2 separate regions of the Homo sapiens genome follow, and region 1 is linked to region 2. Evidence: fine-mapped expression QTL. Tissue or cell type: whole blood. Region 2 holds a variant in brackets; the other region holds the start of a gene. All regions are shown on one strand. Distances are between the middles of the regions.

Region 1 (8,342 bases), 20 kb after region 2:
AGGACCATACCCAGGACTTTAAGGTATTAACTCTTTCAAGAAGATATGCCTCCTTAACAACAGGGGCTGTGTGTTATATATCAATATATGCCTGTCTTCTTGCAGAGTGTACAACATATAGCAAGTAGTCAATAAATAGCTGCTTATGAAAGAATTTAAGCTAATTTTCTCTCCTGTCTTAAAAGAAAACCTAAAATTAGAATTGCCCTTAGAAGCTGTCTCAGCCAACTGCCTACTTCACAGATTAGAAAACTGAGACCTGGAGAATAGAGGTAGCTTGCTCAAGGTTATATAGTTAATAAGACATCTGTTGTATGAATGAATAAGTGAATGAAGATGAGACTCCACAAACCAAGCTTTCCAGTCCAATAATGAAATGACAGGACAATGAACACCTCACCTTGTGCAGTATGTAAAAGTGGATTCATTACCTGGATAAATCCAGCACCTGCAGTTCTGGGAAACTGAAGAAGCTATAGCTGCCTAAATGCCTCAGGGGATTAAAGCTCAGGTCCAGGTTCTTGGTTGAGAAGGGGAGGTTGTCGGGGATTTTGTAGAAATTCAGCTCCATGCATTGATAAGTAATATTAGGAACCACCTGCAATGATTACACATGACATGAAGTATCTTTACTGCATGGTCTCCCAACTCCCCTCTCCTAGACCAGAGATGGTGGAGAGGGGCCTCTTTTTGTGCAAGCACAAAATTCAGTCAACCTTTCATCCATCTGTCCATCCTTCCATCCATATATCCATCCATCCATTCACTCAATTCATGCTTATAAATTGTCTTACTCTAGATTAGAAAGTAAAGAGCACCTACTACGTGCTCAGCATTCTAACCTCCGTGATAAAACGGCAGCATTTAGCAAGAAGCAATGGAATCGGGGTGAAGGGCTGAGGCTCCGGAGTCTGAAAGCTCTGGGTTTCATGCCAGCTCTTCTGTGTGGTTTAGGGCCAAGTCTTTAAAAACAAAACAAAATAAAACGAACAAAAGAAAAACCTCAGTGAGCCTCATTTTATCATATGTAAAATGTAGGTAATAAAATATCCAATATCGTGCTTGCTGCAGTAGCACATACACTAAAATTGGAAGGATACAGAGAAGATGAGCATGGCCCCTGCACAAGGATGACACACAAATCCATGATGCGTTCCATATTTTCATGATCTATGCAGCAAATCACCATGGCACACATTTACTTATGTAATAAACCTGCATGCTCTGCACATGTGCCTCTGAACTTAAAAGTTGAAAATACAAAAAATAAATAAAATATCCAGTATCATTTTAAATACTCCATATCATTGGGGAGACTGTCTGGCAGTCAAGATGTCCAGACCTTCCTTAGTCATGGCCCAGATTTTGACAACTGCATTCTTTTTCTTGGCTCATTGACCCTTGAGCAAAGTGATGTAGAAATAGGGGGAAATCTTTAGAGTGCATGGATTCCCATGGTGGAACCTAGTAAATAAGGTCAAGTGCTTTATGCTGTCTTTGTTTTTACACTGCTTTCTAGCCTACTTTCCCACATTCTTTGTAAGCCTAATTCTCTAACGCTCCCATCTAATTTCTGAATGCTCTCATTTCCTCCAACAAAATTCCTTGCAGAAGCCAGCTAATTGTAGTTTTCTGTTGTTTGAAACCAATAGAATGTTTGAAGGATTAAATGAGATAAGGTGTTTAAAGAGTTTATTTAAAAGCCCGCTACAGTATAAGTGATCAATAGATGTCAACATTAATTATTATCATCTATCATTAATCCCTTACCATATGCCTGCATAGTTCTTGTTTGTTATATACTTTCACTTAATCTTCAAATAAGCATTTAAAGATGAGGAAAATGGAAATTCAAAGAAATGAAGTAATATGCGCAAAGTCAGAGTTCAAACATGCAGATCTTCATTCGTATGTCTGCTTAAATGTTGCAAGCCATGGAGCCTCAAAGACAATATTGTCTAATAGAAACAGTGCCAGGCACTCTTTCTTTGCCCTCTTTTATTCCCTTTCACGGGAAGCACAACCATCTAACATTATGTTGTCTATCTGATTGTTCTCATCGTATTGTTCATCTCCTGTATTCCATTGCAAGTTTGATGGGTTTGCCCACTGCTTTGTCTCCAGCACTCAGAATGGTGTCTGGCAAATGGTTGGTGCTCAATAAATATTTGCTGAATCACTAACTGATTGAATAACTGATTAAATGAAGGTTTACTTAAGTCCAAATTGTAGGCATTTCCTGCCAAGTGCTGTGGGCATTACAAAGAAAAATATGATGCAGCTCCAGACTTCAATGGACTCACAGTCTAGAGTAAGAGTTTAGATAGGAGCAAAGCTAACACTATCTCAAGGGGCCATAAAATAGGCTTAGAAAATATGCCCTGTGGTTCAGAGAAAGCAGAGATCAAGTCTGGATTCAGGAAAGGCTTCCCAGAAAAGGAAGATTTTAAAGTGGGTCTTGGAAGATGAGTAAGGTTTAGATATGTGGAAAGGGGAAGAAAAACATGTCCTAAGGAGAGGACAACGTGAGCACGTAAAGAGTGGAAAACAAACTCAGATTAGCTGGTGAGTGGTGGGAGTGGTGAAATCTAAGTAAGAGGGCAAGCCAGATCAGGAGGGCCTCAGACTTTGTCCTGCAGCAATTATTTCAATCATTTATCACTTACACATCTAGCGGCTACTGTGTGCTGGCCACTGGAAATATAGTGGTAAATAAAACCAGCAATGATCCTGCCTCCTTACCGATTCCATTACAAAGGGAGAGAGAGAAAATAAACAAACAAAAATATAAAATGTTGTGCTCTAGAAAAAAAAATATTAAGCAGTATAAGGGGATTTGAGGCAAATAAGTGAGGCTGGAGAGCTCTACATGGGGCAATCAAGGAAGACTGCCCTGAGGAGGGGACATTTAATCAGAGATCTGAATGGAGTGATTAAAGCATGAAAAGGACTTGGGCTGCACTGACCAATACGGTAGTCACTAGCCATACACAGTTATCAAACACAAGAAATGTGAATAGTGTAAATTGAGAAGTGTGGTAAATGTAAAACATATACTAAATTCCAGACTTAGTACCAAACAAGGAATGTAAAAATATCAATAATAGGTAAATATATATTAAAATTTTAAACATTATTTTAAATACGCTAAGTTAAATAAAACTATTATCGAAATTAAATTCACTTGTTTCTTTTTTTAATGAGGCTACTAAAAACTTTAAAAGTACATATGTGGCTCACATAATATTGCCAATGGATAGCACTGATCTAGCATTCTAGGTAGAAGAAATAGCCAGTGCAAAGGCCCTGTGGTAGAAAGCTGTTCTAATGGCAATGGAGAGTTATTAAAAGTTTTTAAGGAGAGTAATTTGTTAGATTGAAGCCTAAGGAAAAATAATAACAACAAATGCAAGTACATAACAAACAAGAACGTGCAGAATGAATTAAAGGAAGAAGACTGGAATCAGGAAAGCAGTTAGTGTGTAAGAGTCAATGCCAGGGGAAATGAGGGCCTGCCTTACAGTGGAACTAAGGGGATGGGCAGGGATGGACAGGCTTCAGGGACTGACAGGAAAAGGTACATGGGGAAAAGAAGTCAAGTTTGGCTGTGGTTTTATCTCGCAGTGAGCCTAATTAGAAAATCTATCTCCATTAACCTAACAGCAGAGGGATACAGAGAAGAGGACAAGGAGGAGGACTATGGGCAGGGAATTGAGGGAAGGGATGGCTTCAAGATAATGAATTAGTCTTTGCTAAATATTACTTGATTTTCTCCTATATCCTCAACTTCAGGACTGCAGCTGGCTTTTTCTCTCTTGAGTTTCTGACCCTGCCTCACTGTAAATCATTTTCTTAGCTGTTCGGCTCTACTATGGGTTTCTAAAGCAACTGTGAAGTCTGCGCAGGGGAAAAACAAAAGAGATCCATCATGAATAAGATTACCAACCAGCTGATTGGTATTTCACTAAGAAAGAAACTGTTGCATTAGCTGACATTATACATATTTCCCTCTTGCTTTTTTCTTCTCTCTCTCTCTCTTTTCCTTTTTCATTCTCTTATTTTTTTCATCCTCTGGACTAAACTATATTACTGCATACAGAAGTCTGACACCCACTTAGAAAGTTCTTTCTCTAGAGACACACACACAAAAGCCATCTTTTTCCTGAGATTGAAAGGAGCAGGGTGACTGCTTGAAGCTGAGTGTAAAGACCACCAGTGGGAAGAAATGACACTGAAGCAGTCTGCTTACTCTCTAGTGAAGAAGGTATTATAATTCTCTTACAGATGCGAAAACTAGTCTCAGACAGGTTTGATAATTTCTTCACAGAGCCACAAGGTAGCAGAGCAGGGACCTTAAGCAGATCTATGTTATCTCATGCCCCTGTTAGCACTCAAAATTTCCAAATGGAACAAACCCCCAATGGCTGCCTCTAGTGCCCTGTAACAATGAATTATTTGATCTCTGTGGCTTCTTGAGTCTTTAAGGTAATTTAACTCTTTTTTTTTTTTGCAAAAATAAACAAACCAGGGCACACAGTGAGAAGTTCTGGGCAGAAGTGAGGGAAAGTTCAGAGGAGCTGACTCCAGCCACATACCTCCACGCAGGGCTCCCAGCTTTCTGGTCTCACGCAGGAGAGGAAGGCCATGGCTGGGATCAGAGTCCCAGCCAGGCGCGAGGCAGACATCATCCTGGCATCATCCTCACTGCTTCTGTGAGCAGCAGTGGCCCTGTGAATGCGTGGCTCGCTATCACCGTCTGACCGAGCAGTTTCTGAGGCACTGGTGTCTTCTCTTCCTCGAGCCGCCCCACAGCAATTGGTGTATTCAAAGCAGTTCTGGGCTAAAGGGTGAGAGGAAGTGAAAGCGGCAACCTTAGCATTCTGGACTTTTGTTTCTCTAATAGTTATCTCTTTTGTCACAGGAGAGGAAGTTAGAAGAAGAAAACGCCTGCAGACCAGTGGCTAAAGAAACAGCAAGAGGAAGCTAGTTGGCTTTTATCCCAATTAGTCATCTGACCTCTGCCTGGGCTTGGTGAATTTAGGAAAACAATCAGGTTCTATTAAAATAGCCCTTGTAACTCTCTAGGATGACGGTGATTTTCCAATTTTGTTTCAGCTGTGGAAACACTATTTGTATTAGTTTGCTGGGGCTGCCATAAGGAAATACCACAGACTGGGTGGCTTAAACAACAGACATTCATTTTCTCACAATTCTAGAGGCTTCCAGTCTGAACTCAAGGTGTCAGCAAGTGTGTCTGAATTCTAATCTCCCCTTCTTATAAGGACACCAGTTATGTTGGATTAGGGCCCACCATAATGACCTCATTCTACCTTACATACCTCTTTCAAGGCTCTCTCTCCATATACAGTCATAGTCTGAGGTAGAGGGGTTAGGACTTCGATATGTAGGTTTTTGCAGGACACAATTTGGCCCGCCCCTTCTTGTGAAGAAACTCACATACAAAACTGAAAATAAACCTCAACTGAAACACAGTTTGAAAAGTACAAGAAGATTGGGAAAAGTCTGGGATTTCAGAATGGAATATACTGAAGTTCAGATCTCAGCTGGGTGACTCATGGCTTTGAGGCATTGGTCAAGTCATGTAAACCGCTAAGCTTTACTTTCTTTCTTTTCTTTTTTCATTTTCTGTATTATGGTAAAATCACATAACATAACATGACATAACATAAAATTTATTATCTTGACCATTTGTATGTGTACAATTTAGTGGCATTAATTATGTTCATATTTTTGTACAATCATCACCACTATTCATTAATAAATAACTCCCCATTTCCCCTTTCCCTAGGCCCTTGAATCTATGCACTACTTTTGTCTCTATAATCTTGACTACTCTAGGCAGCTCTTAGAAGTGGAATCATACAGTATGTATCTTTTTGTCACTGGCTTATTTCACTTTGCATAATGTCCTCAAGGTTCTTTTCTGTGTAGTATAGATCAAAGCCTCCTTCCTTTTTAAAGCTGAACAATATTCCATTGTATGTATAGACCACATTTTGCTTATCCATTTGTCTGTTCATGGACACTTGCATTGTTGCCACACGTTAGCTATTGTGAATAATGCTGCCATAAACATGGTTGTACAAATATCTCTTAAAGTCTCTGTTTTCAATTCTTTTGGATACGTACTCAGAAGTGAGATTGCTGGATCATGTGGTAAATCTATTTTTAATTTTTTGAGCACCCACCATATGATTCTCCACAGCATCTGTACCATTTTACATTCCCACAAATGGTGTACAGGAGTTCTCATTTTTTCACATCTTCACCAACACTTATTATTACTTTCTGGTCTGTAAAATGTGGTAATCACTTTTAATCATAGCAGAAGCTTGCATTTATAAAATGTATTAAAATAAAGATACGCAATGGTAGTCAAATTATACAAACCTACCAACCTTTAGTTTTCTGGTCTTTAAAACGAAGATAATCGCATGTGTTTTGAATTACTGAATTAAGCTAACTTACGTAAAACGTCTAGTCTAGAGCATCATCATTACATTCCATAAATGAGAGCTATGATGAGGATTGAAAATGTGGATAGAATGAAGATGATAATATGTATCTCAAAGTATTGTATTGGGATTAAATGAACTGGCATTTGTAAAGCTTTTAGGACAGTGTCTGGAAAGTAGCAAGTGCAATGTAAGTTTCTGTTAAATAAGAACCTGATTTAAAACAGGAATATTATGCATGCTAAGTCCTAGATAGTTCTACTGTAATATCCTCCAAGCACTTCCAATCCAACGTGTCAAAAACCAAGCTGTGAGGGACCATTTTGTGGTGGACTGGGCACAAACTCTTGTAGACTCCATCAACACACCAGTAGAGTTAAGATAAAAACAACCTCCATGTCAAAGCTTTGCTCTGAGTATTGAGATTATTCATGTAAAGATTTTAGAGCAGTGCCTGACACAGAGTAGGTGCTCAATAAAGTTTAGTTCCCTGGAAAGTTAATGGTGTTTCACTTTGACATAGTCATCCAAGGTGGAAATCTCTTTGACTTTATTTCCCTTACTTCCTCATTTCTCATGCTAAACATGTATTAACCCAATTGTCTTCTTTTCTGTGTTCTTGATGTTCTGGCATCTGGGAAGAGACTGCACTTACCAGGGCTAGTTAGTTCTAAAAAATAGCAAAAGATTTGCTCTGGAGCATGCCTTATGCACACTAAGCAATCCAGAGCCCTTCCTCTGAACCACCTCCTCTACCTGGCTTTTACACCCAAGTAGACACCGTTATTCAGCCCTAATCATCACAGGTCCAGGTACCAGACAACTAGAGACAGACCCTCTACCCCAGAGCCCACTGAGGTTATTCAAACTAGCCAGTCCTATCCCTGCTTACCCTGCCTTGCCTTGCCTTTTCTGCAGTAACAACAATAAAAGCTTGTGCCTATAATTTCCTCTTGCTCCCTCTGCCTCCTGACGGACTCTGGTGCTACCAATGTGGCCCTGCATGGTGTGGCATGCCCCCGCTTCTTAGGAACTGTAAACAACAAACTATATTTCCAGTGGCATCATCTTCTGATCTGTTGTTTTCACCATAGCCGAATAATAAAACCTACATTTTAAAAAATGTTCCACCAAGTTGTAGAAATTGTATCTGTAAAATAATTCCAAAATGTCAGTCGCCATTTCTACTACCATTACTATTGAACATATCCCACGGCCTAGACTAGTTCAATATACTTTAAGAAGCCTCCCAAAGTCTAGATTCACCTCTTTCAATGTACCAGCTCTTCCAATTGATTCTTCATCCTGCTGTTGAAAACATCTTTCTAAAATAGAAATACGTTTAACTCATGTCATGCTAATAATGATTTCAGGCTGGGTATTGCCTAGATAAAAAATCTCCTGGCCTACCCCCATCACATATACACATACAGAAACACTCCACTTCCTAAGAATGAGAAACAAATATGTGGGTCATTTCAAGCCAGACATAACTAGACCCCATTACTGGGACACAGTGCTTAAGTGAATAGAGTAATACAAGTGTGTAATAGACAAATGCACTTTCTTCCCATCATTTGGAGAGGAAACCGCTTGATAGTCTAGATGAGGAACTAAGGAAAAGGGCCCAGGGAAGTCCTTTCAACTATGTTTTCGGAGATGTTAATACATGTGTTTTATAGAAGTCTTCCTGGAAATTTTTCCTATGTGTGATTGGAGAATCCCTGGTGGTGACTTGTAAAGAGGTTTCCTTTTCCTGGGAAATGAATGGGATTAACACTCAATCATTTACTGACCTTAATCAAAGACATCTAGGTTCTATGTTGCTCTTCCAGAAGGCAGACCATGTGTCAAATACAAATTAGA
Region 2 (8,342 bases):
CCACAGGAGACATCACAGTTGCTACCAACTCTCTAAAAGAACAGATTGTGTTTCTGGCCCTGAAAGTCCCACTCCATGCTTTGTGGGACAGAGCTAAAAAGGGCTATAGTATCTATGTCTCGTGATTTTTGAGTTCATTTTCTAACAAGATCAGGAATCTCTTTGACATTCATCAAAGCAATTGAGGGTAAAGTCTCCACGTTCTTTTGATGGGTTCCTAGGGCCAGTCTTTTCCGTTTCAATCCACCCACCACACCATCCCCTGAGTAACAGAGTTACATCTCATTTCCGATCTTTTCCCTCCCTAGAATAAAGAACTTCAGTATTTCTAAACACCTTAAGAGACATTCCAGGCCCTTCTGGGTCTTCCCTGCTGCTGTCCTTCTAATTTTTTTCTTCTTTATCTCACCTTTATTTTTACTATTAAAAACAATTGTAATAATAGGTATCACAAATTTAAGTGCTTACTATATGATGGTGTGCCAATTAATTTCTATTCATCATATTAATGTATTTTATCCCATTATAATTCTCTGAGGCAAACATCTGCAGTATCCTCAATGTACCAGACTAGATGATGAAACTTAGGAACAGAAGGGTTAAGTAGCGTAACCTGCCCCAGGTCACACAGCTTCTATGTGGTAGATCAGTGATTTAGGTCTGTCTGTCACCAAACCCCAAATCACTAATCTTTACCTCATGTATGTCACACTACAATATAGCCACTTGTTTACATGTCTGTCCCTCTGTCACCTAAATCATCAACTCCTACCAAGAGATTAAGAATCATGCTTTTTTTTCCCATTGTTTTTGTCCCTGCTGGAACAGGGTCATGGTGGCCACACAGTATATATTTCCCCAATTTTAACATTTTTTTATTTTAAAAAGAGGAGGGCAATATTGCCAATGGATGGGGTTGATATAAAGATTTTCTTTTTCCTGAAATGGAGTCTTGCTCTGTCACCCAGGCTGAAGTGCAATGGTTCACCCTTGGCTCACTACAACCTCCGCCTCCCAGATTCAGGTGATTCTCGTGCCTCAGCCACCTTTGCACCATGACGCTCAGCTAATTTTTGTATTTTTGGTAGAGATGGGGTTTCATCATGTTGGCCAGGCTGGTCTTGAACTCCTGGCCTCAAGTGGTCTGCCCGCCTCAGCCTCCCAAAGTGCTAGGATTACAGCTGTGAGCCACCATGCCTGGCCTCCCAGTTGTGTTTTATTTTATTGTATTTCCTAGAAGTAGATAGAAGTATGGTAAGAGCTCAAATCTGTCTCAGGTTAGTTCAAATCCTGCTTCTGTGACCTCTGGATTTGTAATGCTCTAAGGTGGGGTTCTTAGCTGCACTGTGCCTAAGTTTCCTATCTTTAGAGTGGAGTAGATTAATTAATTCACTTAAGCACTTTGAAGAGTGTTGTGCATGGAGGAAGCTCTCCAGAAATGCAAACTTATTGTCAGTTGGCTGCCAGATGACCCAATATACTTTGCATACACTTTTAGAAATGTACCCAGGATACTGCTCTTCCCTGTCTGCACAGTTAGACTTGACCCTCCTGAGCATGGAGGTCATACTTTATTTGGATTTTTCTGGCATTCCTCTTCAGGGGCTGGCAGGTAGGATGAGCTCAGTCAACATTTTTAAATTAATAGACAGTGTTCTGGATAATGCCTGTTCTACCATCCACGCTATGGCAGTATAGGGATTCTCAGTTGCCTATTTTTTTTTTTTTTTTTTTTTGAGATGCAGTCATGCTCTCATGCCCAGGCCAGAGTGCAGTGGAGCAATCTTGGCTCACTGCAACCTCTGCCTCCCAGGTTCAAGCGATTCTCCTGCCTCAGGCACCTCAGTAGCTGGAACTACAGGCATGCGCCACCACGCCTGGGTAGTTTTTTTTTTATTTTTAGTAGAGATGGGGTTTCACCATATTGGCCAGGCTGGTCTTGGACTCCTGACCTCATGATCTTTCCGGCTGGGCCTCCCAAAGTGCTGGGATTACAGGTGTGAGCCACTGAGCCCAGCCTCTTCGTTGCCTTTCTAGTTTCCATGCCTATGAGAAATTCATTCTACTGCCCTAACACTTGCTTATCAGCTAGTTACTGAAGCTGACCACATGTTGAGACCACACAGCATGTGTCAAGCACCATGCTGAGTATATGACATCCATCACCCATTTCGTAAAAACACATTGTATTCCACTACCCCAGTGTACTGGGAGACAGCAATGAACCCATTTTAAAACATTTCCCATGGAACTTACAAAGGAGGGGATATCTGTGTACATCCATTTAACATTTTCTACCTCCCAGAAAGCTCAAGTAGCACCTTACTGAGGGTCAAACAAAGCTGAAAAAAAGAGAAAGACTCTGCAGGAGGCTTCTCCTAGGCAGAATATTGGTGTTGCTACCCCAGAACAAAGGCTTTCTGCTCCAAGCCAGCCAGAATCTCCTGGTGAGAAAAGGGCAGGATCCAACTCCAATAGCAAGCCTTTATATCATATCCAAATGCATGTAAAAAAAAAACTCTTGGTTCTTATTCCATATCACAGGTGAAAATAATGGGCCAACTCTCATGCATAGGCGGACTGATGTAGTCAGTTTATGTATCTCCATCTTTATATCTGTCATCAGAGCTGCCAAACAATAAATGAGACATTTGAGGAAATAATCAGCTCTGTCACTGGATTTTTTAGCATAATCTGAACAATCATACTTAGGAGATATTTCAGGGTAGGATTGAAGAGCTCAGCTTTTGGAATTAGGCACATATGGGTTCTAATCTTCCATCTTACTATCTGTAATTTACTAGCTAAGTTGTTTGGATGGATCGGTTCAAACTCCCTTAGCCTCAGTTTCCTCCTCTGCCAAATGGCGATGAAGACACCTGCCTCACAGAGTGGTTGGGAATATTAAATGGGATCATGCACGTAAAACACCTAACGTAGTGCCTGGTTCGTGAAAACTGCTAAAAGACTGTTTCACTTGGTATAAATGGACTTAAGAATGTTGTATTTTTTCATTATTATGATCTTTATTGTTATTGTTTTGTGGTAGTAGAAAGAATCCCTATAGTGGATAGAAAGCTGAGCAGAAGTTTTGGAAATGACAAAAACAAACAAAAAAGAACAAAAATTAAGATCACAAAAGCTAAACCGTCAACAAGAAACCCAAAACATAAAACAGAATCAAGTAGAACTGCTCCAGTTGATTCCTCACTTGATTCTCCACCCCTTTTCCTCCATCTCTCCCCTTTTTTATTATTATTGGTAGAGGTAGTATTATCAATAGAATTTCACTACTGCTACTACCACCACCACCACCACTAGCCTGGTGGCTTCTTCATACAAAGTCAGCATGGTGCAGTGGGAACAGGTAGATCTGGTTCAAATCCAGACCATGCCTCTCACTATCCTTGTGACATCAGGCAGAACAGGAGGCTAACTAAGAGGCAGGGAAGGCCAGGTTGAGGCCTTCACTCATTGGCATAAAAATAAGAGAAGAAGGTGTATGGAGGGGATCATGGCAGAGAGGAGTCAGGACTAGATTGCAGCTCCAGACAGAGCAGCATCCAGAGGCTTGCATTGTGAATTTTAGCTCCAAATTGACTGCAAGAACAAACCAACATTCCCAAGAGGACCCACAAAACCTCTCAAGGAAGTGGACTGCTCCTGCAGGACCCAGAAGACACCCCAAATGCTGTGAGTGGCAAGAGGGAGAGGGATAACAGACTACAAATATGGTGCAGTGTATATTGCTTGGGTGACGGGTGCACCAAAATTTCACAAGTCACCACTAAAGAACTTACTCATGTAATGAAATACCAATACCTTATGGAAAAATAAAATAAAAAATAGGG[G/C]AAGAAGAAATTGCATAACTCTGTTATGCAGTTTAACAATTTTGTGGTAACAAGATGATCACTTAACAACAGCTTCTTCAACCCTTATGTTGTAACATTCTAGGATGTTTGTCTGTTTCTTGAAAGGGAGGGTAGGGTCACTCCAATTCTGGGAAAGTTTTTGAAGCCGAAGAACAAGTTGTATTATGTCAAGACTGAGTTATAGCTTCCCAGTGTCACACAGGAAGTTTGTATCAACACCAGGATAAGGACTTGGGCCTCCTAAATGCAAGGCACCACAAACCAGTGGGCTTAATGCTGAGACATTACCTAGGCTTCTGTCGGGCTGTATGCTCCCCATTTCATAATGAAAGCACACAAAAAATTAGCATTTTTGATGACTGTGAAGTGCCTTGCACTGTTTTAAGCACTTTGTTTGTATAAGCACTCATTTAATATATCATCCTTAACTGACAGATAAGCAAATTGAGACATAGTCCAGATAAATGTCTTTGTCAGGGTCAACTGATGCCAATTAACTATTAGCTTTCATGTAATTCAGTATTTATACTATATTGTTTCTTTCCTCAACTCTGCTATACATGGTCTTCTACTTATTACTTCCCAGATTTATCATTTACATTTTTGCTCTTCTTTTAGGTTAAGAATTTAAAGATCCATCTGCAGAGCTGTTCTTTTACAATTTCCAGCTCAAATGGGCCCTCCTCTGTAAAGCCTTCTCTGATTGCTTCTAGGAAGAACAACCCTCCACTCCCCACCACCCTGCATTTTGGCATAACATTGTGTGTGTGTGTGTGTGTGTGTGTGTGTGTGTGTGTGTGTGTGTATTGACATGCCTCTCTTGCCAAAATGAATCTGAACTCCGTAACTTTGAGGGCACTTCTTGGTCATTTACTTCTGCAGCTTCATGTGCCTTTTCAACCACAGAGTAGCTTCTTCATAAATATTAGATGGCCAGATGAGTAAAATAAAGAACACTCTCAAGGAGAAAAAAGAAAGTGAGAACTTTATTTCCGTGTACTGAACTGCCAACAAAACTGAGAGGTAGATATTATCCCCATTTTAAGCCGAGACAAACAAGACAGATACCATAAGACAGGATCAGAACACAGATCTGTCTGATTCCCAAAGCTTTTGTTCTCTCTAATACATGAGAAGAAAGACAGGCACATTAATGGTCACATGCAGAAGCGGTTAATGGAGTTCACAGACAAGAAAGGAAGAAAGAGAGCAAGGAGAAAATGAACATCAAAAAATAAGGAAGTTGGAATACTGACAGGTCAAAGCAGAGAGAAAGACAAGACTTACTAAGCAAGAACTAACTTAGTGCACAATAAGAAAATGCAAAGGAAGGAAGATTGTGGTGACATTTAGAGAGCTTAGAATGGCAACAGAATTGAGCTTCAGATATTTGGAAGAGTTTTATTCAAAACCGTGGCAAGAGCCAGAAAAAGTAAAGGGCAGAGACAAGGGCCTGCAGCAGGCAAGGAGGAAGCATGATTTAGAGACAGATGCCACAGCTCAGGAAGGGAGCGGCTTGACCCTGCTGCTTGGAAAGGGGCATGCCTGGGAGTGCTGGCACTAAGGACACTGTTGGTTGCTATTTGCAGTGGCATAAGGATGAAGGATGATAGCAGCCCTATAGTGATATAAGGGACCATCATGAATGGCATTTCAAGAAAGAAAGCAGGAAGGAATGAGGAACCAGAGTTCTCTGTTTTTATCAATCCACAACTGTGAAATTTATGAAGAAAGTTTACTCTCAACTGACAAGCATTCACATATGGTAAGAGGCACAAGGGGTCGAATGGTACCTCTGTGACTAACAGTGTAGGAGCCTGGGAGATATCACTTTAAATGTCAAGTATGGGAAAGAAGAAAGAATAATTGCAAGGATTAGTCCACAAAAGTGCTTGAGTTTAGAGAAACTGTATTCTTCTCCTTTAAGATAATTAAAACTGACCAAGTATACACATTGCTGAAATAGAGGAGACTCCTGTAAGAATGACATATAGCTTAATTTAAAAGCTTTTGGAATATGTAGGCAAAATGGAAGATATTCTTGAGTTTATAACATGGGGCAAAAGAGAAACTCCTCCTTGGAGGAGTTTTCAATCTGTTATCATAATAACTCCTTGCATTTATGTAGCACTTCCCTAAATTTTATTGGAGGCTCTGTCTCATTTCATTCTCAAAACTTTCACAGAAGACAGCGTAAAAATAACGTTATCTCATAGATAAACAGAGACCAAAGAGCAAAGAGATCAAGAGATTTGCCTTTGTTCAACAGCCTGTTAGTGGTGGAGCCATTTCACTATCAATGTCTTGTTTCCACAGCCTTTCACCTATAACTCAATGGGGTTGATAGCTTAATCCTTTTCAGAAATGAGGGAACATGGGAAATATTATAAATACATGGATACATCATGACTTGACGAATGAGTCTCCCGTTTTGATATAGCATCATCAGGTTTAGAACGCTAAAACCACATGTTAAGGATGCTGGAAAATCTGGATGATGAAGTTACACCTCTAATCATAGAATAGAATTCCTGGAATGGACATTTACTCCAATTGCCACAATTTATAGGTAAGGAAACAGCCCTGGAGATGTGAACATGCTAGAATGTCAGAGAGCTGGCCTGACCCTCAGCAGCCGTTTGGTTCATTCCTTTCTGACTGCCAATCTTTCTTGTGACACCTTCAAAATTTTTCCAAATCTGCATACCTTTTATATAATTCATTTCATCCCGTTTTTTTCCTAAGTTGGCCCACATTTTAAACTTAAATATATTTTAAAGAGATAATTGATTCTTAGCTAGTCACAAAATTTATTATAAATAAAAGTAACCATGAAAATAAACATATAACCACTAAAGGTAATACATTCATCTGTCAACCACATAAAATCATCTTATTTACTAACATGTCACACTTTTGAAAATGCTGATCTGACCTAAATGTCCCATTTTACAAATGAGAGACCTGAGCCCAGAGGTGCGCTCCCGGTGGCAGACCTGAATCCTAAACCTCACTACCTCTATCGCTGTTCACTTATCTGATCTCAGCTGTTAATATGCCAGAAACTGGCAAAGGTATTCCCTGCCTTTAGTGGTGCTAGACTCTCAGGTGCTGAAACCACAGCTAATTCAGCCAAAGATGATGTGTAGAGAGGACTCAGAAGGCCCTATTAATAACTCAGCTGAGCACAGCACTAGCCAGATATTCATCCCCTGCCATTAATTTCAAAAGTGCTCTTTGCAAGCAGGAAAATTTTGACAGCAGGTGTTTCCCACTGGGGAGCAGTAGACTCCTCAGAAGACTCAGGGTCTCAGCTTAAAGACCAAAACTACTGAATTTCAACCGTCAGTGATCACTTCCCCAATTCCCCTCAACGATAAGGAAAAAGGAGTTTCTGGGAAGATTGGCAGTGGCCCAGCAAGTTTTCGCAAGGAAATCCTGTGTTTTTCAGAGGGGAAAGTCATTTTTGGAATCTTAGTACTCAAGGCAAGATGAATACTTAGCAAAAGTGGAGTTAAATTTTACTTTGATATATTTTGGACTGGAAACAAAAAACAACATCACATTGACAACAGATGCCTCAGAGAGTTTAGAAAAGACCACAACATTTTTCTGGTATATATTTATGTGGGGTCTCAGCTACCCAGGATGATAAAGAAGGGAAAATGACAACGTGATAGGTAGAAACTAGGAGAACTAAAATGATTGCATGGACACAACATCTAAATGGATGTAGTGAGCTCACCATCAAATAGGCCAATCCTAGTATCCCAAAGAGTCTGATCTAGTGGGATTGAGAAGAATCAACTATACAGTGTAAAATAAAAATACATTATCTGACCTTGCCTGGGCTATCATGAATCTTAGCAATAAATCTCAAGAACAAAACCAATAACCATATTAAATGTGGGTGGTTATTCTCCATTTTCCATTATAACAGTAATTCCCAAATCTGTCTGTGCACGAAAACTGGGAGAATATTTTAAAATATAAATTCCTTAGGACTAACCTCTGATATTGAACCAGAATTTCTAGCAATAAAGATCATAAAGATAGATAATTAGTACCTAGATACACAGACACATAGATAGCAGAATGAAAGTCATTAAGTGATTCTTAAGCCAAGCATTTGTTTAAAAGTGAGAGTTTGGGACCTGCTCAACTTTGTCATCTTCATATATGGTTTCCATTTTAATCGTTGTATTGAAATAAAATCAGCTGTAGACTGCCTGGAATTCTTTGTCAAAATGAAGTTTGCAAAAAGAGGCTAGAAGAAGATAGAAAAGATGTAAGAGAGAGAGCAAGTGATTTGGAGACACAAGATCAAGGAACCGATCTTGGGATAGAAAATACTCTTCTCCAGTTCCATCCATGCTCTCACTTATGAGTGGAAACTAAATAATTTGTAGACATGGACATGGAGAATGAAATAACAGACATTGAGGACTCAGAAAGGTGGGAAGGGGTTAA

The links.
Region 1: TLR4 starts here. The variant in region 2 is fine-mapped to the expression of TLR4 in whole blood (TOPMed, PIP above 0.99).

What each region holds. Positions count from the first base shown.
Region 1 is chr9:117,700,819-117,709,160 of GRCh38, reverse strand. TLR4 (toll like receptor 4) reads right to left here and starts at 4,758. Exons shown (of 3, transcript NM_138554.5): 1 at 4,596-4,758; 2 at 432-598. The coding sequence starts at 4,688. It also overlaps the pseudogene RNU6-1082P. RefSeq lists enhancers at 2,873-4,072, 4,188-4,688, 4,659-4,728, 4,739-4,788, 4,689-5,189 and 1 more.
Region 2 is chr9:117,721,225-117,729,566 of GRCh38, reverse strand. It overlaps TLR4 (toll like receptor 4), which reads right to left. Exons shown (of 3, transcript NM_138554.5): 3 at 4,832-8,342. Among named protein-coding and RNA genes, the nearest start is that of TLR4, 21 kb to the right of the region's middle. The variant G/C (reference allele first, on the strand shown) is at 3,852.